7 linked regions of the Homo sapiens genome follow. The protein of the gene in region 1 interacts with the protein of each later gene in a pairwise test. Each region holds a gene or a part of one and is shown in the gene's direction. Other genes may lie near its edges.

Region 1 (3,500 bases):
GACTGTATGACCGGGATGTGGCTTCTGCAGCTCCAGAAAAGTAAGTTTCCCTGTGGTTGTGCCTCACAGTATCCTCAGGAGGAGATGGCAGACATATGTAATTGGGGTACTAGGGGTGAAGACAGCGTCCTCCTAGGCCTTGGAAACATCCCCAGAGTACTTCTCTGGGACTAAGACCCATGGAGACAAAAGTGCTGAGTGCCAGGGATAGTCTAAGTCAGAGAGTCCCTTTAGGCCTCCTCAGAATGCTTTCCTAAGCCATTCCTAATTTTCATTATGAGTATCCCAGAGGGCATTTGGGGGACAAGTCTTCTTGATTTCTTGATGTTCAGCTGGAGTCTTTCCCTCAATCTCACATCATCCCTAGAATACATTAAAACAGAAAAGGTTCAGCCCCATTAAGTGATCACAGACAGTCCCTGGGATATAAGAAGACAAGAGTACTCTGGGCCCTGGGGACTGAGGTGGCAATTTGATTTTCTCAACATGGCCCCCTTCTTTTAAGAGGTATCCACACGGTCAGATGATGGCTCCATACCATGGTCTTCCATGCTCTATTATTTGCCCCAACTGAGGAGCAGCTGAGCTGAGGTGCTGCAGAGCAGGTGTCCAGCTGGTGCTAAAGCCCCTTTAGATCAGAGACCAGCCTGTTTAGGTGAGGAGGAGTAGGGAGCTGAGTCAGCCACAGCTTCCATTTCTCCTGGGGTGATCTTGGCCTCCTTCTCCCACCCCATAGAGCAGAGAACCCTGCTGGCCATGGCTCCAAGGAGGTGAAAGGCAAAACTCACACTTACTATCAGGTGCTGATTGATGCTCGTGACTGCCCACATATAGTAAGTAAGCAAGATGGCTGGGCTTGGGGGTCCTCTCCATGGAAAGTCCTGCATCCCAATGGGGACAAAGGGAGGGAAGGGGGTCAAACAGAGCCCAGGTCAGTCTTGGTCCCCAAGGCCTTGGACTGCACAGTGGCCAACAAAGCCCTGATTCACGTCTTTTTTTTTTTTTTTGATATGGAGTCTCACTCTGTCGCCAGGCTGGAGTGCAGTGGTGAGATCTCAGCTCACTGCAACCTCTGCCTCCCGGGTTCAAGTGATTCTCCTGCCTCAGCCACCCGAGTAGCTGGGATTACAGGCATCTGCCACCACACCAGCCTAATTTTTGTACTTTTTAGCAGAGACATGGTTTCACCACTGATTCACTTCTTGCCTTAGTCTCAGAGATCTCAGACAGAAGCTGTGACCTTCTTGGCTAACCATGATGACAGTCGGGCCCTCTATGCCATCCCAGGTGAGTAGTTAGCATTTGAATGGTGCCCGTCAAGAAGGAGTCTGGTGTGTCTCAGGGAGAGGATTCTGATGTCCTGTCATCCACTGGGAGGGATTATGATGCTGAGAGGTATGATATCAGGGTTATCCCATACTGGAACAAGGCCAGTTAATGTTTCTTCTCAACCCCATCTCTCTCCTCTCCTGTGAGTTTCACCACTGTCTTTTGCATCTCTGTGCCAGGCTTGGACTATGTCAGCCATGAAGACATCCTCCCCTACACCTCCACTGATCAGGTTCCCATCCAACATGAACTCTTTGAAAGATTTCTTCTGTATGACCAGACAAAAGGTAATCTCTCTCAAGAAGGGGAGGTGGAATGGGAGGGCCTTTTCATCAAAGAATATCATAGAAATAATTCCAGGGCCGGGCACGGTGGCTCACGCCTGTAATCCCAGCACTTTGGGAGGCCCAGGCAGGTGGATCATCTGAGGTCAGGAGTTCAAGACTGGCCTGGCCAACCTGGTGAAACCCTGTCTCTACTAAAAATACAAAAATTAGCTGGGCGTGGTGGTGGGCGCCTGTAATCCCAGCTACCTGGGAGGCTGAGGCAGGAGAATCACTTGAACCCAGGAGGGTGGAGGTTGCAGTGAGCCGAGATTGCACCATTGCATTCCAGCCTGGGCAACAGAGCGAGACTCCATCTCAGGAAAAAAAAAAAAAAAGGCCCGGGTGCTTGTGGCTCACGCCTATAACTCCAGCACTTTGGGAGGCTGACACGGGCAGATCACTAGGTCAAGAGATCAAGACCATCGTGGCCAATGTGGTGAAACCCTGTTTCTACTAAAAATATAAAAATTAGCTGGGTGTGGTGGCGTGCACCTGTAGTCTCAGCTACTTGGGAGGCTGAGGCTGAAGAATTGCTTGAACCCGGGAGGCACAGGTTGTAGTGAGCTGAGATCATGCCACCGCACTCCATCCCGGCAACAGATCAAGACTCCGTCTCCAAAAAAAAAAAAAAAAAAGAAATAATTCCAACGCTCTATTTCCACAACCCTTTTCAACCTCCTGTTAGAGCTGTCATGCCTCATAGGTGTCATACCTGACAGATGACAGATGGCAGTTATTTCCTTACAGATATGGAAACTGAGGATCAGGGATGATGACAAGGGACTCAAGGTTGCTAGTAGCAGAGTGAGGGCTGAAAACCAGGGCTCTTAACTGCCAGTCCGATTGTTTTCCCATTGTATCACACTAGCTCCTCAGGGCTTATTCTTGGTAGCAGTCCTGTGCCTTCTTCCAGCCTGAACTTTTGCTTCATGTATGAGCACCTTGTTTGCCTGGGCCACCACTAGGGAGGGTTTTCTAGGAGGGGCAATCGCACTGGACTATTGTGTGATTGGACTAGATACAATTGTATCCACAACACACAATTGGACTAACCAATTGTATCTTGCCCCAGCACCTCCTTTTGTGGCTCGGGAGACGCTAAGGGCCTGGCAAGAGAAGAATCACCCCTGGCTGGAGCTCTCCGATGTTCATCGGGAAACAACTGAGAACATACGTGTCACTGTCATCCCCTTCTACATGGGCATGAGGGTATGTGGCCAGCCTGGACCCCTTCTAGCAGGGGTAGGCCCCAAGGTGTATGGTGTCCTTAAGGTGACTGCCGGGGGAAGGGAGTCTAAATATAAACCATGTCCCTGTGGTTCTGCTTCCAAGTGGTGGCATGTGTTGGGTGGGGTTGAGTAGCCTCTAGACAGTGGCTGACACCAAGACCTAGAGCGGGCAGGAAAACTCATAGGTCCCAGGAAGGAATCCTTTATCCTGTCTCTTCCCTCTTGCTCAAAGGGAGCCATGTTTATGAAGAATATACACATAATTATTTAAAGCAGTGTAGGCATAACACTTTTTACACATTATAGACACTTACACATCGCCTGGCTGTAAGCATGTGCAGTGGTAGGGGCCGCCCAACTCCACAGACAGAAGCTATAGGTCAGAAAAGTACGTATAGTCAGTGCATGCTTGGATACAAATATAAATGAAACACCGTCCCTGTCTTCCAGGACCTTATAGTAGTGGAGGAGGCCAACTTAAAGTATTATAGCAAGGGACAGTAATGGGAGACAGGAGGAGGACAGGGGCTCAGGGCAGCAAGGATAGGGGGCAGGGCTGGTGAGGAGGGCAGTGAAAAAGGTAAGAGCCCTGTAACTGATTTCTGTTGGCATCCAG
Region 2 (3,500 bases), on another chromosome or scaffold:
CATGATTGAAGCTGCTGGCGTGGAAGCTGTGCCATGTCATGTAAAGCATGCAGTGGGAAAGCAGTGGGGTGGGGGCGTCTTTGTATTACATCATCTGTTGTTGCCGTTTCAAAAATCCAGAGGCCTTTCTACACTTCAGTTGGATGTTGATTTCAAAATGACCGATGTTTCTTTCTGACTCATGAAGGCTGCTGTCTTTGGAATCTGACATTAGAGGGAAGCGAAACTTTACAATGTGTGGGGCAGCCTGGTGTGGTGGCTCAGGTCTGTAATCCAGCACTTTGGGAGGCCAAGGATGGCGGATCACTCGAGCCCTGGAGTTTGAGACCAGCCTGGGCAGCATGATGAGACCCCATCTCTACAAAAATTAGCTGGACACGGTGGTGCACACCTGTGGTCCCACTACTCAGGAGGCTGAGGTGGGAGGATCACTTGAGCCTAGGAGGTCGAGACTGCAGTGAGCTATGATCATGCCACTGAACTCCAGCCTGGGAGACAGAGTGAGACCCCGTCTCAAAACAGAAAAAAAGTCACCAGGCATGGTGGCACATGCCTGTAATTGCATCACTTTGGGAAGCTGAGGCAGGCAGATCACTTGAGTTCAGGAGTTCGAAACCAGCCGGGACAACAAGCAAAACCCCATCTCTATTTTTTCAAAATTTGTGTATATAAAATTTTTGTATGAAAGCTGTGTGGTACATGTTTAGCTGTTTTATGTTTCACTTTCTGGACATGAGTGTGATCCTCCCTGCTCTTGCAGTGCCATCTAAGCTGTCATCAGTTTTCCTGGGCGAGTGATGCATCTCCCCAGCTGGTCTGTCTGAGCCCCTGGCCAGCCAAGGGGCTGCCCTTGACTCTCCCGGCACCCGCCCGTCTCTGCATAGCCACCCCCACCACTTTAACTGGATGGTTTTGTATTGAGGTCAGGCTGGACATCAGCTTTCTATGGGCAGGGACCGTGTCCTCTTATTGGCTGAGTAATTGGGTCCATAGCGTAGGTAAGTCACCTCCTTTAAGAGACTTTGATAAGCAAAATAGTGAATATATTCTTTTTATTTATTTACTTATTATTTTTTATTTTTGAGGCAGGATCTCCCTCTGTCGTCCAGGCTGGAGTGCAGTGATGTGATCTTGGCTCATTGCAGCCTCGACCTCCCCGGGCTTAGGTAATCCTCCTACCTCAGCCTCCCAATTAACTGCGACGACAGGCACATGCCACCGTACCTGGTTAATTTTTATATTTTTAGTAGAGGTGAGGTTTTGCTGTGTTTGCCCAGGCTGGTCTTGAACTCATGGGCTGAAGTGATCCACCCACTTTGGCCTCTGCGCCCGGCCTATTTTTTTTTTTTTTTTTTTTTTTTGAGACGAAATTTCACTCTTGTTGCCTAGGCTGGAGTGCAATGGCATGCTATCAGCTCACTGCAACCTCTGCCTTGCAGGTTGAAGCGATTCTCCTGCCTCAGCCTCCCAAGTAGCTGGCATTACAGGCATGCGCCAACAAGCCCGGCTAGTTTTTTTGTATTTTTAGTAGAGACGGGATTTCTCCATGTGGTCAGGCTGGTCTCGAACTCCTGACCTCAGGTGATCCTCCCGCCTCTGCCTCCCAAAGTGCTGGGATTACAGGCCTGAGCCACTGTGCCCGGCCTAATTTTGTATTTTTAGTAGAGAAGGGGTTTATTCGTGTTGGTCAGGCTGATCTTGAACTCCCGACCGCAGGGGATCCACCCGCCTCATCCACCCAAACTGCTGGGACTACAGGCATGAGCCACCAAGCCCGGCCGTTTTTAGCGTTTAAAAGGATTGCAGCTTGGCTGGTGGCAGTCCCTCTGTCCTGGCACAGACGCAGGGGGAGACCCTGTGTCTTCAGACAGCATGGACTTCAGGACCCTACTGAGAGATGGAATCAAGAGCTCTCCGGGGTTCTTTGAGTGGGGAGTTGTATCGGAAACCACCATCAGCGCGCCTGAGCTCGCCTCGCATTGTTCTTCTGTAGTGCGGGGGGCCACTGCCACCACCGTGAGGACACGTTGGGGTCTGGGGAGGGATTGTTATGGCTGTGGGTGCACCTTGCACGTCTTGCCGACCTAGCTTTGCACGCTGATCTTCCCTCCGTGCCCGCTTACATTGTTAACTGGGTTTCTGCCCTCCCTCCTCTCCTTCGTATTTCTGTGTCTCATTGACAACTGTTCTGTAGTCGCTTTGTTGACAGTTGCCAAACTGCTTTCCAAAAACATTTCCACTGCAATCCCGGTTTTTGGTGCCAGCCGCAGTGGTGTGAGTGCGCTCGCTTTATTATAGTCTTGCCAGCACTGGGCGTCTCTGTGTATTGTAAACACATGCGATCATCACTCTTATCTCTCCATCCCCCCCACAATTAAAGATGTGCCGTGCTATCTCTGCTCAGGTTACCTTGGCCTTGGGATGAGTTGGCTGGAGGCTCAGGCAGCGCGAGGGACAGGAGGAGGGCGAGGCGCTGCCTGGTGGATTAGCGGGGAGCCATGGCACGGGCAGGACTCAGGAGAGGAGGCCGGCAGCTCACAGCAGACCGCGGGGCTCAGCTGGCCTGCCCTGTGCTTGGGGTTTGTTTTTGAGCGTTGAAATGAGGTCCTTAAACCTTAGTCCGTGCATTGAGAGCAAGGCAGCTGCCTTGAGCCTTACTTCCTTTTCCTCTTTGTCGCCTAGTATGACGCCGTGCCCATCCAGTCCAGCGTGGTGTTATGTTCCTGCCCATCCCCATCAATGGTGAGGACCCAGACTGAGTCCAGCACGCCCCCTGGCATTCCTGGTGGCAGCAGGCAGGGCCCCGCCATGGACGGCACTGCAGCCGAGCCTCGGCCCGGCGCCGGCTCCCTGCAGCATGCCCAGCCTCCGCCGCAGCCTCGGAAGAAGCGGCCTGAGGACTTCAAGTTTGGGAAAATCCTTGGGGAAGGCTCTTTTTCCACGGTGAGTATTTGCTGCTGCTGTGTGTCAAACGTACGTGATTTCCTTGGGGAGGCTCACCTTCCTCGGGGCTTGCCGGAGACTCCAAGCAAGGCTGGTGTCCTTCCAGGCAGGAGGTCTCAGGCCCCTTGAGGGGTGTCACCTGTTGTGAAGGCCACTTGAGTCTTTGGGGGCTGGGTACCCCCCAAGCAGATGACGTGATGAGTGTGGCTAAATATTTAACCTGGTTTTGTAGATGAGAACGTTAGACACATCTCTTGATGGTCTGCGGAGGTTTTTTCTGATGTAGTTAATTTCATTTTAACCTGGCATCAGCAAGTTACATTCTGTGTCCTTGTGTCTCACTGGCAGGGCCCTGGGAAGCTGTTCTTTTTCTTAGATTGAAAGTTAGTATCTCTCCAGGGTTTTTGGGGACATTTATTGACCTCTTCTTATTTCTCTGTTTTGTTTTTTTGAATACATAAAACAGTACGCTCTGGACATTTGCTGGAGACACAGCCTCCAGAGTCTTGTGTTCCGAGTTTCACAAACAGGAGTATTGTCGCAGTACTGTCAAGTCA
Region 3 (3,960 bases), on another chromosome or scaffold:
GCGAAACCCTGTTTCTACTAAAATAAAAAATTAGCCAGGCGGGTTGACGTGCGCCTGTAATCCCAACTACTCGGAAGGCTGAGGCAGGAGAATCGCTTGAATCCGGGAGGCGGAGGCTGCAGTGAGCTGAGAACGCGCCACTGCACTCCAGCCTGGGCGACAGAGCCAGACTCCGTCTCAAAAAAAAAAAAAAAGCATTTCACACCAAGTATCACTAAAGCACAGATCCTTGGGGCCTTTGCAATTGCTGTTCTCTCTTCCTGTAGTGTTCTTATCTTCATAAACACATGGCTTGCTTCCCCACCTCTTCAAGGGCTCCGTTCAAATGACTCCCCCCCGCCCCGCCTAACCTCTAATTTCCAGTCTCCTTCCTCTCTTTTCATGTCACCACCACCTGATTTACGTAGGCGTTTGTGTCTCCCCTCCTTGAAACTTAACTTCGTGAAGGTAGAATCTTATCTGATTTGGTGCAGTATCTCCATAACCCAGTTAGACAGTAAATTTTTGTTGAATTTACCAGTGTATGGTTACTGTCCCAATTCTGGACACAAATTCTATAATACATATGAAAAGGAGCTGAAAATATATAGTAATACATAAATGTAAAACATTATTGCTGCCTGAATTTAACTTTTGCTGACTGGATCCACAGACAAGAAAGAGAAATACCAAATACAACTAATTCAACTCTGTTTATTTTTGACGAAACCGATTTCTTTCATTCAGTTCATACTACGCGTCCACACTGTGCCTCCAAAAATATTTGCCCTTATAACTGAATGCTCAGAAAGGCTAAGAAATCTGCCCAAGGTCCCCTGGCAATCCAGCCAGAGATGTGAGTCACTCTTAAGGTTGGATTTAATACAAATGTTTGAAGGACGGAGCGACAGGCCAGCTGCCCTAGGGAAGCAAAATGCTAAGTGCTCTGATGCGAGGACCGGAGGACAAGGTTCGCGGATGAACCACAGGAACTTCCGGGTTTTAAAGATCCTGGCGCCAAGTTCAGGGCGTTGACCGCGAAGGACGAGGCGTCCCCGTGACGTCCTGCTCTTCCAATGAACTTCAGGCCTGCGGAGACGACGGAGAACGGAAGTTCTCTGCCTGTGTGCTGGTTGGTTGCGCGTTGAGGCCAGCCCCGCCTCCCATCTTCCGGTCTCCTCAGAAGTCGCTTAGCTCTTCGGTGGTTGTCCCACGTCCGGAGGCCTAGCCGTCGCTTACCTAGGATGCCGCGTGGAAGCCGAAGCCGCACCTCCCGCATGGCCCCTCCGGCCAGGTGAGACCATCGCAGGGTTTGAGACCAAAGCGCGGCCGTCCGGACTCTACTGGGGCAATGACGCAGAGGGAGGCCGCGGGCGGGGGTGAACTAAGGTCGGCTGCGGCGTGGGCTCGCCTCTGCCAGGCGGGGGTAGATTGAACGTAAAGCCTATGTTAGGGGAGTGTGGGGAGGGAATTCACTTACGGAAAAAGCTTCCTATCCAAACAACGGGAAAGGCATAACGTTATGGCCAGGTGGTAGGAAGGCATAAATTTTGACCTAGCTTGATTTCGGGGAAAAGAGCACCCAAGGAAATAATCCGGAAATGGTCAGAGGGAGCGTGATACATATGAAGATTTTTAAATACGTGCAGGACATAATTAGTCTTTTGTTATTTGAGAAGGGGTCTCGAAATTGTTGAAAGCATCTGAACGTTGAACAGATGAGGAATAGTTGAAGTTGCTTTTGGTATAATAGTTCAGACGAGTCACTTTGGCCAGTCTTGTTTTGTAATGTGTAAAATGAAGGAATTGGACTAGATTATTTCCCCAGTTGACCATCTTTAAGTCCTAATTAGAATGTTTATTTATTTATATTTTGAGTCAGAGTCTAACTCAGGCTGTAGTGCAGTGACGTAATTATGGCTAACTGCAGCCTTGACTTCCTGGGCTCAAGCTATTCTACCACGTCAGCCTCCAGAGTAACTGGGACTACAGGCATGCGCCACCTGTGCACCACACTTGGCGACTTTATTCTATTTTATATTTTAGCAGAGACAGGGTCTCATTATGTGGCCCTGGCTGGTCTCAAAGTCCTGGCCTCAAATGATCCTTTCGCCTCCACTTCCCTAATCACTGGGATTACAGGCAAGAGCCACCACTCCGCAGCCTATGTTAATTATTTGATCCGTCAATAAAATGTAAACTCCATGAATGCAGAGATTTTTGTCTCTTGTTCACAGTTACATTACCAGCGCCTTGTAGTTACCTAATACTTGAATGAATGAATCCTGTAAGAATCTTTCTAACTTTTAGTAGTCTGTATTTCTTATGACATGTTGGATATGTCTTTAAAGATACTGTGGGCTATCCGAATACATGGAAATTGTTGCAAAGAAGCAGAAAAAACTAGTATGTCCTAGGCTATTACTATTATAAGAAAAGATTAAAGTGGCCGGGCGTGGTGGCTCATGCCTGTAATCCCAACACTTTGGGAGGTCGAGGCGGGTGGATCACTTGAGGTCAGGAGTTCGAGACGAGCCTGGCCAACATGGTGAAACTCCGTCTCTACTAGAAATACAAAAATTAGCTAGGTGTGGTGGTGCGCGCCTGTAATCCCAGCTACTTGGGAAGCGGAGGCAGAAGAATCGGTTGAACCCAGGAGGCAGAGGTTGCAGTGAGATTGGATCGTGACACTGCACTCCAGTCTGGGCATCAGAGTGAGGCCCTGTCTCAAAAAAAAAAAAAAAATTAGGCCGTGCGTGGTGGTTCACACCTGTAATCCCAGCACTTTGGGAGTCCGAGGCGGGTGGATCACCTGAGGTCAGGAGCTGGAGACCAGCCATGGTCACCATAGTGAAACCTCGTCTCAACTAAAAATACAAAAAATTAGCCGGAGGTGGTCGCGGGTGCCTGTAATCCCAGCTACTCGGAAGGCTGAGGCAAGAGAATCGCTTGAGTCTGGGAGGTGGAGGTTGCAGTGAGCTGAGATTGCACCATTGCACTCCAGCCTGGGCAACAAGAGCGAAGCTCCATCTCAAAAAAAAAAAAATTGAAGAGAGAAAATGATGTAAATAATTTGAAATGAAAATCTTGAGGTCCATTTTAATATGTAAGTTATTTTAAGTTGACAATTTCCAAAACTGGTTGGAATTGGGAACTTGATGTTTTTTTCTTTTCTTTCACAGCCGGGCCCCTCAGATGAGAGCTGCACCCAGGCCAGCACCAGTCGCTCAGCCACCAGCAGCGGCACCCCCATCTGCAGTTGGCTCTTCTGCTGCTGCGCCCCGGCAGCCAGGTCTGATGGCCCAGATGGCAACCACTGCAGCTGGCGTGGCTGTGGGCTCTGCTGTGGGGCACACATTGGGTCACGCCATTACTGGGGGCTTCAGTGGAGGAAGTAATGCTGAGCCTGCGAGGCCTGACATCACTTACCAGGTGGGAATTTAGGCAGCATTTCCCTTCCATGGGTGGATTTTATGAGAAAAGCCAGACGTTTGTAAGTTCCTTAAGTGTAGGAATTGTCTTTGATTTTAGAACCCACTGTGCTGTTAATAGACAATGGGTTTTAAAGCCACATTTGGCCGTTGAGTTACTGCCTTAGGCCAGCACCAACAAGTACTGTACAAATTGTGTTTCTTCCCAAGGAGGAGACTTACAACAGTCCACTTGACTCACTGTAAAACAACCACTTTTCCCTTTGAATATTTCATCCCAGTGACACTTCCTACTAATCTTGTCTTGATCTTAGTTAACAAATCAAAAATCTCGCATAGCTGTGTGTTCTTTTACGTGATGTTTGCCATTACCCATCTTTCTGATGTGTGTGGGCTTTCTAGTCTAATGAGCATAGGTGTGTATACTCTTGTATTTCCGGTGTGCTTGAAACTGCTCCATCCAGTTTTCTATAATAGTACCATTTTTCCTCCCTGAAGCTTCAGTAAACCATTTAGTCTTGATAACAAGATAATAATTCCACTTTATTTG
Region 4 (3,500 bases), on another chromosome or scaffold:
ATGTATATATCAGAATATAGTTTCAATGTACATGAAAAAACTCAGTGTATAAGGAAACCGTGTAGTATTATCTTTTGGATAAAGATGGATTTTTTTATTATCCTCTCCTTTTGGTTTTGAAAGAATAGTAGAAAATGTCAGTACAGTTCCTTTGCGCTTAGAACAAGAGGGGAAATAGTAAATGTGAGAAATTAATCCCAGAGAGATTTTTAAAAAGGTCTTATACAAATATGCTTTCAGATAATGTTTCTGTCTATATATCTATAGATAGATAAATGGGCAAGCAGGGGTAGTTAGGAGTATACAACTGATAGATAGTGGTTTAGGCTTCAAATTATAACTGACATTACTTCACTAACATTACTGTAGTGCATTGGGCTTTAATTCTTTTTATTGAGTATCTCTGAGGATATCTGATTTGAGACTTGCAGTATTTAAATTGGCTGTCTAATTTTGTAGCAGTCTCCATGGACTGACTTATGTAAGCCTAAGAATTCTGTGGGTGGCCACATGGCTCTTGTTAGGAGCTGGATAAGGCCTGACACCCTTGTATATGATCAGTGCTGACCATAGAGAGTACCTGTAGAGTCTGCATCACTCCAGCATGCTGTCAGTAGGGCAGGAAAAGCGAGAATGATCATAGGGCGTTTTGTTCCTTGCACTTTTGGTTTTACCTGAGATGTGCAGCTGGCACAGTGGGTGTAGTTTCACTCTCTACTTGTCTCTTAGTTATAGCTATCTATGATAAAGGATGGAAAGCTAAGGTTAGGATTTTATTTCAGGTATTAAGTAGCTGTACTTCTTTTGGTGGGGGAAGCAAGTGAGTTTGATATACATAATACCACAGAACAAAGATTTATAGTTAGGCAATTGAGACCAACTATTAAAGGAAGAAAAGGGCTGGGCGCGGTGGCTCACACCTGTAATCCCAGCACTTTGGGAGGCAGAGGCGGGTGGATCACGAGGTCAGGAGATCGAGACCATCCTGGCTAACACGGTGAAACCCCGTCTCTACTAAAAAAATACAAAAAATTAGCCGGGCGTGGTGGCAGGCGCCTGTAGTCCCAGCTACTCGGGAAGCTGAGGCAGGAGAATGGCGTGAAGCCGAGATCGCGCCACTGCACTCCAGCCTGGGCGACAGAGCGAGACTCCGTCTCAAAAAAAAAAAAGGAAGAAAAGTTGGTTTGAGGAAGAATAAAGTAAAAAATAGTCGAATTTTAGGGTTTCGATTCTAATATTTGAATGTAACCTGAAATTTTGAATGTATTTTGAATGTAACCTGAATTTTGGTAAAACATTTAGCCTGGTCATAAATCCATTTGGTTACATGTCTTGCGACTAGTATAGTATGTTCTTTACCATCATAATTTAATAGTTATAGCATTTGATATAGGTTAAGGTACTTTAGGTAGAATTGTTAAATATATATTGACATAATTATATAAAGGACATACTCTGTATCATATATAGTTCCGTTTTTAGAATCTGTTAGTATGTTTTCCTGTATTCCAAGTTGTTGACTCAGTTATTTTTAATTAGTATTCTGTAAGCCAATTCAGTCATTTCTTAAATGATTATTTTTTAAAAAGTTTTGTGTGACACCATTTAAGAAAATGAAAATGTCAAGTCTTGGATTTATGAGACAATAAGAAACATATTTTTATCATGTTATTTATCAGTCTTTTTCTAAATAACTGAGGGATGATTCCTTGGTATATATTTTAGGTTTAAAATCCAGAGGTTGTTTTGAAATATTTTCTAATATTAAAGTAGCTTGTTTTGAAATTTGGATGATAGCATAAGTATATTGATTGGTTATTTTTAAATTTGAAGTGAAATGATAATTTTAAAGGTAGAGTAGCCATATATAACTCAGTTTATTAGCAAGAAAATGTCAGTTTTAGATACTGCAATCAAATTAGTTTTAGTTCTGAAGTACAAAAGGAAGCAGACATTTGGGAACTTCAGTTACAGTGCTAGTACCACCTAGCGTTAGAACACTGGTGTTCCCCTGGATTTGAGTGGTGTTGTGTGATATGCTGTGAGGATGTACATGGTAGTTTTGGCCCTTGTAGAGTTCATATCTTCAAATGGCCTTGGCTCTTAACCATTCTTGTATACATAAAAATAGTATAAATTATTACTCTTGAAGTTGAGATTCTTTATTTTGTCCTATATTTTTATTTTACAGTTTCTGACATGAATTTGGAAATTGAGCATCCTTATTCAGTTTATTTATCTTGGAAAACCTTAATAGATGAGATTTTGATGAAGTCTTGATGATTCTCTGTTAACTGTTGACAGGGTGGTAAATACTAAAGTCATGAGGTTTAAAATATTGACTAGTTCAGCTCTGTGCTTGCAGTTTTTCCCCACTCTAAGATCATATTGTATTAGGACCACTAAAACCGAGCAAGAAGGAATAAACTAGGAAAACAGATGACCTGTTGTTGGTGAAATACTGTATCTTTAAGGACATTGAATATTTTTCATGAAGCTCATTGTCACCAAGTATGGAACTCTAAATTGGTGTTGCTTTTTGTTTCAGCATCAAAGCTGGACGACTCCTCTCCTACATTCCATATCAGCTGTACACCAAGCAGTCCAGTGTGCAGAAAGGTCTCAGCTTTAATCCTGTATGCAGACCTGAGGATCCTCTGCCAGGTCCAAGCAATATAGCCAAACAGCTCAACAACAGGGTGTAAGTTTGTCTAGTTGGGGATTACTGCAAAGCTGGTTGGTTTTTTTTTTTTTTTTTTTTTTTTGAGATGGAGTTTTGCTCTTGTTGCCGAGGCTGGAGTGCAATGGTATGATCTCGGCTCATTGCAACCTCTGCCTCCCAGGTTCAAGTGATTCTCCTGCCTCAGCCTCCCGAGTAGCTAGGCTTACAGGCGTGTGCCACCACGCCTGGCTAATTTTTGTATTTTTAGTAGAGACGGGGTTTCACCATCTTGGCCAGGCTGGTCTCGAACTCCTGGCCTTGTGATCTACCTTCCTTGGCCTCCCAAAGTGCTGGGGTTACAGGCATGAGCCACCACGCCTGGCCACAAAGCTGGTTTTTAGCAGTGAGCATGGCCCCTGCTCTGTTACAGTCAGACAGAAGCAGATACAAACCCTGGCCATTCACTTATAATAAACATGTTGAAATATGTGTGTATGAGTGTCTTATCTAAAAATGAATTATTTTTATAATGATAATTTCATAAATGTAAGTAAGTTTTTACAGTCATACTGGTTTCTCACCTTAAACTAGTGGATCTTAATTGTTAATAAGTTTTTTCATGGATTTTTATGAAAGTAATTATTTCCTCACAAGTAATTTGCTGTATTGCTTTCTCAAAAATGGAACTAACTGCACCAGCTATATTTTTGTTGTGTTCCATGCATAGAAAGACAATGAAAATGTTAATATTTCTGGGTTATTTTTGAAAAATTCAAAATTCATAACATTCTAAATATGTAAATATATAAATGGAAGTTTAGTTGGTGACCCTTGGTTA
Region 5 (3,334 bases), on another chromosome or scaffold:
GCAGTGGGGCTTTATGGGGCTCGAGGCGGAGGGATTGGGGATCGGGATGGAGTCATGCCAAAAATGGACATCATTTCTGGAACACTTGGTATGTATACATTGTATTACATACACTAAAATTCCATTATCCTAACAAGGCCAAGGACTAACTAGTCTAACTGGGATCAGGTGAGGAGACAGCCTGACAGCATATGAAGCCTGGGCCACTCTTTCTTTTGGCCCAGCTTAGTGGAATCCCTTGGGTCATGGAGGCATGGCTCTTAGAATCAAAGTAAATCCCACAGCCTAACACACTGATAGACCATTTATTGCTATCTGAGCTCATTTCAGACATAGTTGTGGGTCTAGCCCCATGCCATGGCAAGAGCCTGTACTCTCTGTGCCTCAGGCTGTTCTTAATTAAAAAGAAAAAGGAATTCTAGTACTTTTCTCCTGGAGCACTTGTTAGGTTCAGGTGTTGTGAAGTGCTGAACTCCGTGCCTGCCACGTGGGAACATTCTAATTCATCCTGGTTTTCCTCTGCTCTTCCTCATACAGAGGCTATGTCTCGTGGTAGATGGGAGCTAGACTTTGGAGCCCTGCCACCTCACTAGTTGTGTGACCTTGAGTTGGTAGTTAACCTTTCTATACCTCAGTTTCATCATCAATATAATGGAGAAAACAATAGGACCTAAATCAAAATATATGTGGAGAAGGTAAATAAGTTGTATGCAAACAGTTATTATAAACATTCCCTCTGAGAACCTATGAGAACCCTAAAGAGACGAAAATTACATAAATTTGAAGAATTTTTGTAATTTTGAAGAATTTTTTTAAGCCTTCAGAAGTGGGTAAGGCAGTTGGAAACCCATCTAGCAGTTAGCTAAAATGCCAGTTTATAGCCTATGCTTGGTAAAGGAAGGGCAGGCTTTTTAAAAAGCGTCCTTCAGCACTGTCAAGGGGTATGAGAACCTAGTGCAGACCCAGAAAGCCTGGGAGTTCTAAGGGTGGAACCACTACCAGGAGAAAAACACCTGATCATGTGTCTTAATTCAAGAAGCTCTTTTCTTTTTTTTCTTTTTTTTCCGAGATGGAGTGTCACTCTGTTGCCCAGGCTGGAGTGCAGTGGCGCGATCTCAGCTCACTGCAAGCTCCACCTCCCAGGTTCATGCCATTCTACTGCCTCAGCCTCCCAAGTAGCTGGGACTACAGGCACCCGCCACCATGCCTGGCTAATTTTTTGTATTTGTAGTAGAGACGGGGTTTCACCGTGTTAGCCAGAATGTTCTCAATCTCCTGACCACGTGATCTGCCCGCCTCAGCCTCCCAAAGTGCTGGGATTACAGGCGTGAGCCACCACACCCGGCCAGAAGCTCTTTTCTTTTAAGGATGTCTCCTGATGTGGGCTCTTTGAAGGTATGGTCATTGTGAGATGGAAAAGGCTGGAGAGAGAAACTTTATACCATAGGAGATTGAACCAACCCAGCTTTGCATGTGGTTTTAGCAAAAACATTAATTATAGAATGTTATGTTAAGATCTATGAAGACTCTTCTGGAGTTCTTTTTGTTTTTTGAGACAGGCTCTCACTCTGTGCCCAGGTGTGATCACAGCTCATCTGCAGCCTCCACCTCCTGGGCTCAAGTGATCCTCCCACCTCAACCTCCTGAATAACTGAGACTACAGGTGTGCGCTAGCATGCCTGGCTAATTTTTGTATTTTTAGTAGAAACGGGGTTTCACCATGTTGGCCAGGCTGGTCTCTAACTCCTGAGCTCAAGTGATTTGCCCCCCTCGGCCTCCCAAAGTTCTGGGACTATAGGTGTGAGCCACTGCACCTGGCCTCTTCTGGAGTTTTTAATCCTGAAACTTGAGATGTAGATCACACAAAAGGACTCAATGAGAATTGAAAACCAAGTCTGGCCCTAAATCAATCCTAATGCATTAATTGTCAAGAGTTTTGTTCTTAAGTAGGAAATAACACCAGTCATACCAAAACAGTTAATGCCTTAGCTGGGTAAAATTCCAGCCTCTGGGATAATGTTCCCTGTGGGAGGATGGTACAAGCACTGCAGAGCCAGTCTTGTTCCAAAGAGCACATGCAGTGCAGACATGGGGAGTGGAGCTGTGCTGGCTGTCAGAGCAGCAAGCCTGGGTGAGAAAGGGAAAGGAGAATAAGATGGTGGGAAGGGAGGCAGCAGCAGGGTATTTGGGCACACTGGGACCAGTCACTGAGGTGTCAGGTCTGATTGGAAGACCTGCATTTTGATCCTGGTTAGACACCAGCTTGGCCATATGACTTTGGGCAAGACCCTTTTGTAACTTTCCTTAGCTTTTTTACCCTTTTAAAAGTGAGTAGCCAGGCACGATAGCTCACACCTGAATCCCAGCACTTTGGGAGGCTGAGACAGGAGGATCACTTGAACCCAGGAGTTTGAGACCAGCCCTGGGCAACGAAGCATGGCCTCCTCTCTACACAAAATAAAAATTTAAAAAATCAGCCAGGCATGGTGGTGTACACCTGTCCTAGCTACTTGGGAGGCTGAGGCGGAAGGAATACTTGAGCCCAGGAGGTTGAGGCTGCAGAGAGCTATGATCATGCCACTGCACTCCAGCCTGGGTGACAGAGCAAGACCCTGTCTCTAAAAAAAAAAGGAAGATTAGATATCCTTTTATAGTCATGCATTGCTTAACGATGGGGGATGTGTTCTGAGAATTGCATCACTAGGCGATTTCATCATTGTGCAAACACCATAGAGTGTACTTACATAAACCTAGATTATATAGCCTACCGCACACCTAGGCTTTGTGGTATGGCGTGTTGCTCCTAGGCTGCAAACCTGTACAACATGTTACTGTATTGGATACTGTTGGCAACACCATGGTATTTGTGTATCTAAACATACCTAAACATAGAAAAGGTACAGTAAAAATACAGTATTATAATCTTATGGGACCACCATCATATATGTGGTCGTCATTGACTGAGACATCATTAATGTGGTGCATGACTACTCCAATCAGTCCAGGAACAAATTAAAAAGATAAGGAGAAAAGTCAGTGCTTTGAGGCTCCACAACACCTTGCTGTGTCCATTTAGAGCAATTTACAGCTGTTGCTGTAATTAATGAAGCTATCTCCTCCCAGGCAAAGCCTTTGGTTGTGTTGGAGGGTACATCGCCAGCACGAGTTCTCTGATTGACACCGTACGGTCCTATGCTGCTGGCTTCATCTTCACCACCTCTCTGCCACCCATGCTGCTGGCTGGAGCCCTGGAGTCTGTGCGGATCCTGAAGAGCGCTGAGGGACGGGTGCTTCGCCGCCAGCACCAGCGCAACGTCAAACTCATGAGACAGAT
Region 6 (3,500 bases), on another chromosome or scaffold:
TTTTCTTCTCTTTTCAAAAAGAGATTCATATTTCGAGTATCTGATGGGACTTCATCACTGTTGCACAACAGCTATGTAATTGCTTTAGGTGCTCTTCCTGCCGTGCAGTGGGTCAAGTGTCACAGACAATAATTTCATCCATGTGCTGGACCCCTTGTTCTCAAGTGTACGCTGCTAAATGGCATGATTTAAAATTCCTATACAGTGTTTATTGCCCTGTCGCATTTTGAAAGCCAGCCAGAAACATCAAACCGACATTTAGGTTCCCCGCCCACTCCGCCACCCCCAGCTCTTGGGAATTCATTTCTTCATCAAAGAGCCACCCAGGACATCAAAACAAAGCTTACTTTCTCAGGCCTTAATTCATCTTTAAAAAGTCATACTACTGTTTTCTTCAGCATCCTATGGATTTATGGGTTTTTTGTCATTATCTTTATTTCTTATTTTGCAGATTCAAATATGACAGTTGCTATCTTCATCAAAGTAACATGAAAGGATATCTTAATCATTGTTAAAGTTGATTTTTGTCCAAATATAAAAATCAAATTAAGTGTCTTATAGCTTACAATATTTATCAGCTTTTGATTTTTGGACATCTCTATTTGTTCTATGTGATCAACGCTGATTTTTTAAAAATCATGCAACTGGATTAATTTTTGATCTTGAAGCCCCCTGGATTATGTAAATACATATTATGGTTTAACAGAGAGGGATGAATGGGATTGAGAAGATATATGTCAAGATATGAAGAAGGAAAGAGGCTACTACACAGAGAGTTAGAATGACAGGGATTAATGAATCTTGCCTGTATCCCTAGTTATTTTTTTTACTGAGAAGACAGTGAGTAAGATTTAAGAGTGAGCAAGCAGTCCTATTTATAGAAAGCTGTTTTTAAGTGCAGCCGCAAAGACAGTGAAAGAAAGAATTGAAAATGCAAGAGATCACCTCCATACTAAATGCTAGCTTCCCCTAACGTCCCAGCTCTGTACAGCATTTTGTAGGAGAAAAAAACAAAAAAAAAAGCATACCAACCCTTGCAGAAATATTATGAAATCTCTTTGGACTCTCTGCAGAATATTCTAGAAGTGCTCTCAGTCTTTAAGTCTATGTTAGGCTTGGGAAGCTGGGGATGAGAAGGCAATATATATATTATCTGGAAACAGCTTGAGTAGGTCTGAACAAAAGACTGGAGGTGAAGGGAGGACATTGAACTTGCAGCACTGCTACAAATATTTATTCTGCAATAAGCCTTGCCTTTCTTAAAGATGTTTCACGGCAGAATAGTAGGAGGGTGAAATCTGCATACATCTCAGTAATAAAGCAATTACTGAGAGAAGAGTTCAAATTTAGGATCCTGTGATTATCACAAGTCCCTCCATGTTAACCTGTTCTCAAACTCTGGGGTTTTAAATTGCAATATATGAAGTCCTTATTTGTCAGTCTGTGTCGGGCAGACAATATCACCCCAGGCTTTGTGATTGACACAAATGTTATTGGACAAGGGAAAAAGAATGCCACATGCTCTTATAAATGAAATAGTCTTTATAAGATTCCATATATAAGTGAGATCATGGATTTTGTATGTGTGTGTCTGGCATATATCACTTAGCTAATGTCCCCCAGGTTCCTTAAGTATATACAATTTAGCATAAAAAAAGAAATGAAATAGTTTTCCTTTCTAGGCCTGTATTTGTTACTTATAGCATTCTGGTTTTCCTGGTTCCAAGTGGGCTTTGGGTTTTATTAATAGTAGAATCGTTGAATTTTTATGCAAATACTGCTGATTTACAGGTTGGAAATCTGGACAAAATCAGACCTGCCCTAGAAGATGATGCTGTGGAAAGTGTTTGCCTTTTGTCTTATAAAGAACCATCTATAAAATGGATCATTTTGTCGCTAGTCTCTCCAGACTATGAAATTGGCATTTTGATAAGGTGATGGAAAGAAATTTGAACTATTTAATTACTGATTTTGATTCATACAAGCCTTGACTCTTTTAGTATTAAAATGAAGAAACAGGAAACAGTTTTAAGTCTGGTTTTACATAAAATTTACACTTTTTTCACACTGAAAATAAAACAGTAAAAGCCAGCTTATAGTTCTTTCTAAATATCCCAACTTTCTCATTATTGGATGCTTCTGCAAAACAGCAGTATGGTGATACCACTCCCAGTGTTGACCTTGATGACCTGAGGGTCCCAAAGTGGCTTCAGCATTATCATGGAGTCACCACAATGATCAGGTAGAAGCTGGTGTTAGGACCAGCGTGAATGGGTCACAGGGGCTGAGGGGGGCTGTTGGGAGGTAGCCCATGCCGTATACTGAAGAGCCATCCATGCCACTTCAGGTGGGTGATTGCAGTGGACTCTCTTACCATTGATTAATCTTCCTAATATTGAGTAAAGCATTGATTCTTCTCATAAGCATGAACTGCTGGATGATGGGAACATTTCTGTGATTGTATCATAAGAGAAAGACAAGTAGAAAGATAATTAGAACTGCTGCAATTCTATGTATATTTTAATTTAATTTATTTTTTTAAATACAAAAGACAGCTATATTTCCTATATAATAAGGAAACTTATTACTTTAAGGAAATATACTTTCTCACGAGAGAAACTCAAGATTCAATTCTTTTCACAGTTAGCCCCGCTGTGGTGTGATTTGATCTTGGGTTCCATAGAGATACAGAAAATCCAAGTCCCAGTCTGCTTAATTGCCATGTTTATTTTTTAATCTCGGCTGTAGAGCATTTTTAATAACTGATATGTAGCTTGCAGGGTAGAAATAACAATGCTTTGGAATATTACCTGTGAGACTTTAGGAATGAGCTGAAGACACCCAACAATGACAACAATGGCCTCTACCAGCAAAACGGGAACCATGACTACTTTATCACTCCTGCCGGATCTAGTTCTTGTCAGTTCCTGCAAAGGCTAGTCACTTGTCTATTTCGTTGGCTAGTGAAAAGGAAATGCACAAGAAATGTGGAATGCTGTCTAACAGACAGAATCCTCCTTTCACAAGTTGTTTAAGTTGGCAGCCCAAGTTAGCAACCTCTATCCGGGTCCTTAACGTGACAGCAGAATGTGGGTAGGATGGTTAATTACCAGATGTGTCTGTTATGACTCACCCAAATCAATAGCTATTAAATCCTTGGTGGCTACTGTTTTAGAATAGGCTTCATTGAATATTTGTATAGAAATCTGGGTAGAAAAATGTGGACCTCGAGGTGATCTAGGTATTTGTTTTGGGCAAGGAACTCTCATCAGTGGTTGGTTTATTTGTGTCTTGGGGGATCTCACATCATCAGCCTTTATTAATCACAGGCACGAGGGGCCCCACACTCTCCCCCATACCTCTACCGCCCCATTGCTGAGGATGGGAGAGTAAGAATATAGAATATGCTGTAGGCTTCTGTGGGATTAGATGCTTGGAGGCAGCGGAGGCAAATGTTCATGGGAACACTGAATATGGAGGAAGAGGCTGTGCCAGCCCCA
Region 7 (3,500 bases), on another chromosome or scaffold:
TAACATTGGTGTCGATGAATGACACCAGTGAGTGATTTATCAGTGGATTATCAATGAATGATAATGTAGAAGGAACTCTTAGCTTTTCCACGATAGTATGGGAACAAGAATGGATTGCAGATATTTTCGATGAAAAATTAAGGATGGGCTCCACAAGTTTTAAAAGGATAGAACGATGCATTGAGACCAGCAAGGTGATGTTTGAGAAGTATATTTTTATGATCCCACCCATGGGTGCTAAAACCAGTTACAAATGTCTCGGATTGGGTCAGTGGAGTTTAGGACAACTTATATGGTACTTTGGTGTTTTAATTAATGATGTGGAACTAGAGGGTGATTTATATGTCCATGAGGAGGTCATTCTTAGAATGCGTGGTTAGAAGTAGAAGAGAATGGAAGGCTTGCTTTCTTATGACTCTAGATGGTGCAGTTAGAATTGAAGTATTGTGCATAGCTCTGGTCACCTTGTTTAGGAGGGACTTCAGGTTCCCTGGTGCTACACGGTGTACTTAGAGGAAAGCTGTTTGGATGGTGGGAGTTTTCAAAAGCTAATCCCACAGTTGGGAGAATCTGAGTTCTTTGACAAGGAGTAGAATAGGTTTTGGGAGGAAGGGAGCATATAGCTCTTTGTAAATACCTGAAAGGTCATCTGGTGGAAGAATTGCATCATTCTGCTGTAGAGAGGCAGAGCTTGCCAACAGAGACCCTGCCCAGATGTGTGGTGAGTTTTCTGGCCCTAGAACCAGGGGAAGCCACTTAGAAGACTCTTAAGCATCAGGTAGGTTATAAGCCTAGATCTTTACATTCCTTTCAAACTAGTACTGAACTAATTGATTTTTTTCAAGATAAAATATCAATTACTTCTAAGGCCATTATTGTTAACTTTTTGTAATAATAGATCTGAGGCATATGAAAGTTACATGTCTCACTCTGGGAAAATGCACCTCAACTAGGGGTTTGTACCATTGGTTGACCTATTTGCATATTTTATTTAATCACACACAGTCTTGTATTATGTACAAGTTTGAACTTCTGTGATCATGTTATATATTCTGTGAAAACGTTTATCTTAGTAGAAGGCCTTGGATTGAAATTTAGATCCGGACAGAAATTCGTGTTTGTGTTTACTTTGCCGCTGTCTTATGGCAGGATGAGGGAGCTGGAGTGAGGGAGACGCGTGAGGCCACATAAGGAGGAGGGAAGCTGACAGGAAACATGACTTCCTGTATATAATTTTGCCTGATAAAATTGAAGAAAGTTTTTAAATTTGCTTTTCCTGTCTTATGTGAACTTCCACGTGTTGGTTTCTGGTTTTGTTTTTCTATTCTTGTTCTTACAATAGTTTGTTTTCCTTTTGTTCTTCCTGTGTGGTGTATGATTCCATTCATGGGCAGCTTTTCTTCTTTACAGCTTCTGCTTTCTAAATGTGTCCCAGCTCTGCCACTCATGAGCTGTGTGACCTTGGGAATGTTACCTTCTCTGTGCTTTCATTTCCTTACCAGGACGTGGGAAAAAAAAAAAAGCAAGGGGATGTGAAGACCTGTCTCTGGAGGCCTGCTATAAATATTATTAAGTGTCCTAACTTAAATTAAAATTGAATATTAAAGACTTGTAATTGTGTAATTTTAATTTAAAATTAAATTTTAGGCCAGGTGCTGTGACTCATGCCTGTAATACTGGCACTTTGGGAGGCCAAGATAGGAGGATCACTTGAGGCCAGGAGTTTGAGACTAGTCTGGTCAATGTATCGAGACCCTATCTCTACAAAAAATTAAAAAATTAGCCAGATGTGGTGGTGTGCACCTGGAGTGCCAGCTGCTTGGGAGGCTGACCCAGGAGGATCTCTTGAGCCCAGGAGCTCATGGTTGTGGTGAGCTATGAACGTGCTACTGCACTCCAGCCTCGGCAACAGAATGAGATACTGTCTCAATTTTTTAAACAAATTTGTATAATGGCTGAGAAAATACTGGGCCCCTAGGAGGTTCCACCTTTCTTTCTGTCCCCTTACCAGTGAGTACCAGTTGTTTACTGACAAAGATAAAGAACATTTATGATGTAGTTCCTTAAAAATTAAAATACAACTCTTTCTAGCATGACATTGGTTTTATATTTCTTTGTCACTTTCTTGCAATCATGTTACATGTTGTGGACTTTGGTACTTTGTTTTTGTTTGTCTCTGCTGAGCAAAGTTTCTTTCTTTCTCCCAGCTTCAACAATTCAAACCGAAGAGGGCTCTTGGCTGCATATTTATACTTCTGCCCACAGAAAATTAGAGGCAGTTCCCTTCTGTGGATGGCCTATATTTATGAACTTTCTTGCCCTTCTTGACTTTGCAAGATACCCGTTTCTCATCCCAGAGAGCACAGCATTCTTTTAAACTGTGATCTTATTGATTTGCCTACATGCTTTTTGTATTTGTGCTTAGAGAACATGTGTATCTTCAAGGGAAACGCTTTTAAAATTGAATAAACAAAGACACAAGGGTTTGTTGAGAATCCCCTCTGTGTCAGGAAATGAAGACTGTGATCAGGGTATGAGCAACTTGGTTGAGGGCTATATTGGGGTCAGGCTGCACCAGGGGGTGCTACTGGCTTAGTGGAGATAAGGCTGGTAGAAGATGGAGAAGGAGAAAAAGCATGAGAGCGGGGAGGATGAGGACAGTGAGGGAGTCGTGGAAAGAACAGAAGAGCAGTGTGGTACGGAAATGCAAGCGCACATGCACATGTATGACTCTGTATTTTCCCATGATCATGCAAACATGGGGAAAGAAATGGAAAGATCTAGATGTTAATGTGTCTTGGGGTATGGGCTAGAAGAGGCAAATTTTAAAAAATGGAACAAAAACCAGCTTATAGGAAATGATCTTATGTATGTAAAAAAGTTTACATGCTTATGTATAGACGCAAAAGAAAAGAGATCTCTAAGTTGGAAACACAGAGGGCTTCAGTGAGGAGGAGCATGAGGATGGCTGCAAGGTGTCCTTGGGTTGGGTGATGGGCTGTCACGTGTTATATTATTTTGCTTTGTAACATATACATTTTATTAAATAGAGATAGGGTTTTGCTGTGTTGCCAAGGCTGACCTCAAGTGATCCTCCCACCTCAGGCTCCCAAAGCGTTGGGATTACAGGTGTGAGCTACTGTGTCCAGCCCTCATATTCTTTTTAATATATGAAACAACATATTAACAGGGATAAAGGGAAAACAAGTGGGTGGCCACGTTGCCATGTAACCTGTTTCAGGAGAAACATAACAGTAGCCTCACATGTGGTGTGCACGTGTGCTTGCACATTCTTGATGAATGAGGAGGAAAGTGTGGAAGGCTTCAAGTCTCCATTGGGGGAATTGGTGACGGGGCAGAACCTTGTTGCTGTTAAAATCCCCTATCCCCAGTGCCTAATAAAATGCACTCATAATAGTGGATGAAACAATGTCAACCTTGAATAGAATGGTTTAGTGGTGATCTGTGAGTCTACTTTAACAGAAAAGCATATCCTGTGT

What was found.
Region 2: the proteins of POLDIP2 (region 1) and PDPK1 interact in a two-hybrid assay, tested with the Homo sapiens proteins (one large-scale study listed by BioGRID and IntAct).
Region 3: the proteins of POLDIP2 (region 1) and CHCHD2 interact in binary tests that used the Homo sapiens proteins (3 or more experiments, as listed by UniProt).
Region 4: the proteins of POLDIP2 (region 1) and REV1 interact in a two-hybrid assay, tested with the Homo sapiens proteins (one study listed by BioGRID).
Region 5: the proteins of POLDIP2 (region 1) and ALAS1 interact in binary tests that used the Homo sapiens proteins (3 or more experiments, as listed by UniProt).
Region 6: the proteins of POLDIP2 (region 1) and DSCAM interact in a two-hybrid assay, tested with the Homo sapiens proteins (one large-scale study listed by BioGRID and IntAct).
Region 7: the proteins of POLDIP2 (region 1) and MTUS2 interact in binary tests that used the Homo sapiens proteins (3 or more experiments, as listed by UniProt).

The regions. Positions count from the first base shown.
Region 1 is NC_000017.11:28,351,028-28,354,527, reverse strand, and holds part of POLDIP2 (polymerase delta-interacting protein 2), read left to right. Parts: coding exon 1-40; intron 41-736; coding exon 737-833; intron 834-1,211; coding exon 1,212-1,287; intron 1,288-1,508; coding exon 1,509-1,616; intron 1,617-2,727; coding exon 2,728-2,864; intron 2,865-3,500. UniProt on the Homo sapiens protein: Involved in DNA damage tolerance by regulating translesion synthesis (TLS) of templates carrying DNA damage lesions such as 8oxoG and abasic sites.
Region 2 is NC_000016.10:2,555,021-2,558,520, forward strand, and holds part of PDPK1 (3-phosphoinositide-dependent protein kinase 1), read left to right. Parts: intron 1-2,682; coding exon 2,683-2,943; intron 2,944-2,959; exon of another isoform or gene 2,960-3,500. UniProt on the Homo sapiens protein: Serine/threonine kinase which acts as a master kinase, phosphorylating and activating a subgroup of the AGC family of protein kinases.
Region 3 is NC_000007.14:56,103,677-56,107,636, reverse strand, and holds the start of CHCHD2 (coiled-coil-helix-coiled-coil-helix domain-containing protein 2 isoform 2 precursor), read left to right. Parts: upstream 1-1,160; 5' UTR 1,161-1,223; coding exon 1,224-1,273; intron 1,274-3,161; coding exon 3,162-3,411; intron 3,412-3,960. UniProt on the Homo sapiens protein: Transcription factor. Binds to the oxygen responsive element of COX4I2 and activates its transcription under hypoxia conditions (4% oxygen), as well as normoxia conditions (20% oxygen).
Region 4 is NC_000002.12:99,441,518-99,445,017, reverse strand, and holds part of REV1 (DNA repair protein REV1), read left to right. Parts: intron 1-2,548; coding exon 2,549-2,701; intron 2,702-3,500. UniProt on the Homo sapiens protein: Deoxycytidyl transferase involved in DNA repair. Transfers a dCMP residue from dCTP to the 3'-end of a DNA primer in a template-dependent reaction.
Region 5 is NC_000003.12:52,208,160-52,211,493, forward strand, and holds part of ALAS1 (5-aminolevulinate synthase, non-specific, mitochondrial isoform 1 precursor), read left to right. Parts: coding exon 1-88; intron 89-3,123; coding exon 3,124-3,334.
Region 6 is NC_000021.9:40,837,159-40,840,658, reverse strand, and holds part of DSCAM (cell adhesion molecule DSCAM isoform CHD2-42 precursor), read left to right. Parts: intron 1-3,500. UniProt on the Homo sapiens protein: Cell adhesion molecule that plays a role in neuronal self-avoidance. Promotes repulsion between specific neuronal processes of either the same cell or the same subtype of cells.
Region 7 is NC_000013.11:29,019,339-29,022,838, forward strand, and holds part of MTUS2 (microtubule-associated tumor suppressor candidate 2), read left to right. Parts: intron 1-3,500. UniProt on the Homo sapiens protein: Binds microtubules. Together with MAPRE1 may target the microtubule depolymerase KIF2C to the plus-end of microtubules. May regulate the dynamics of microtubules at their growing distal tip.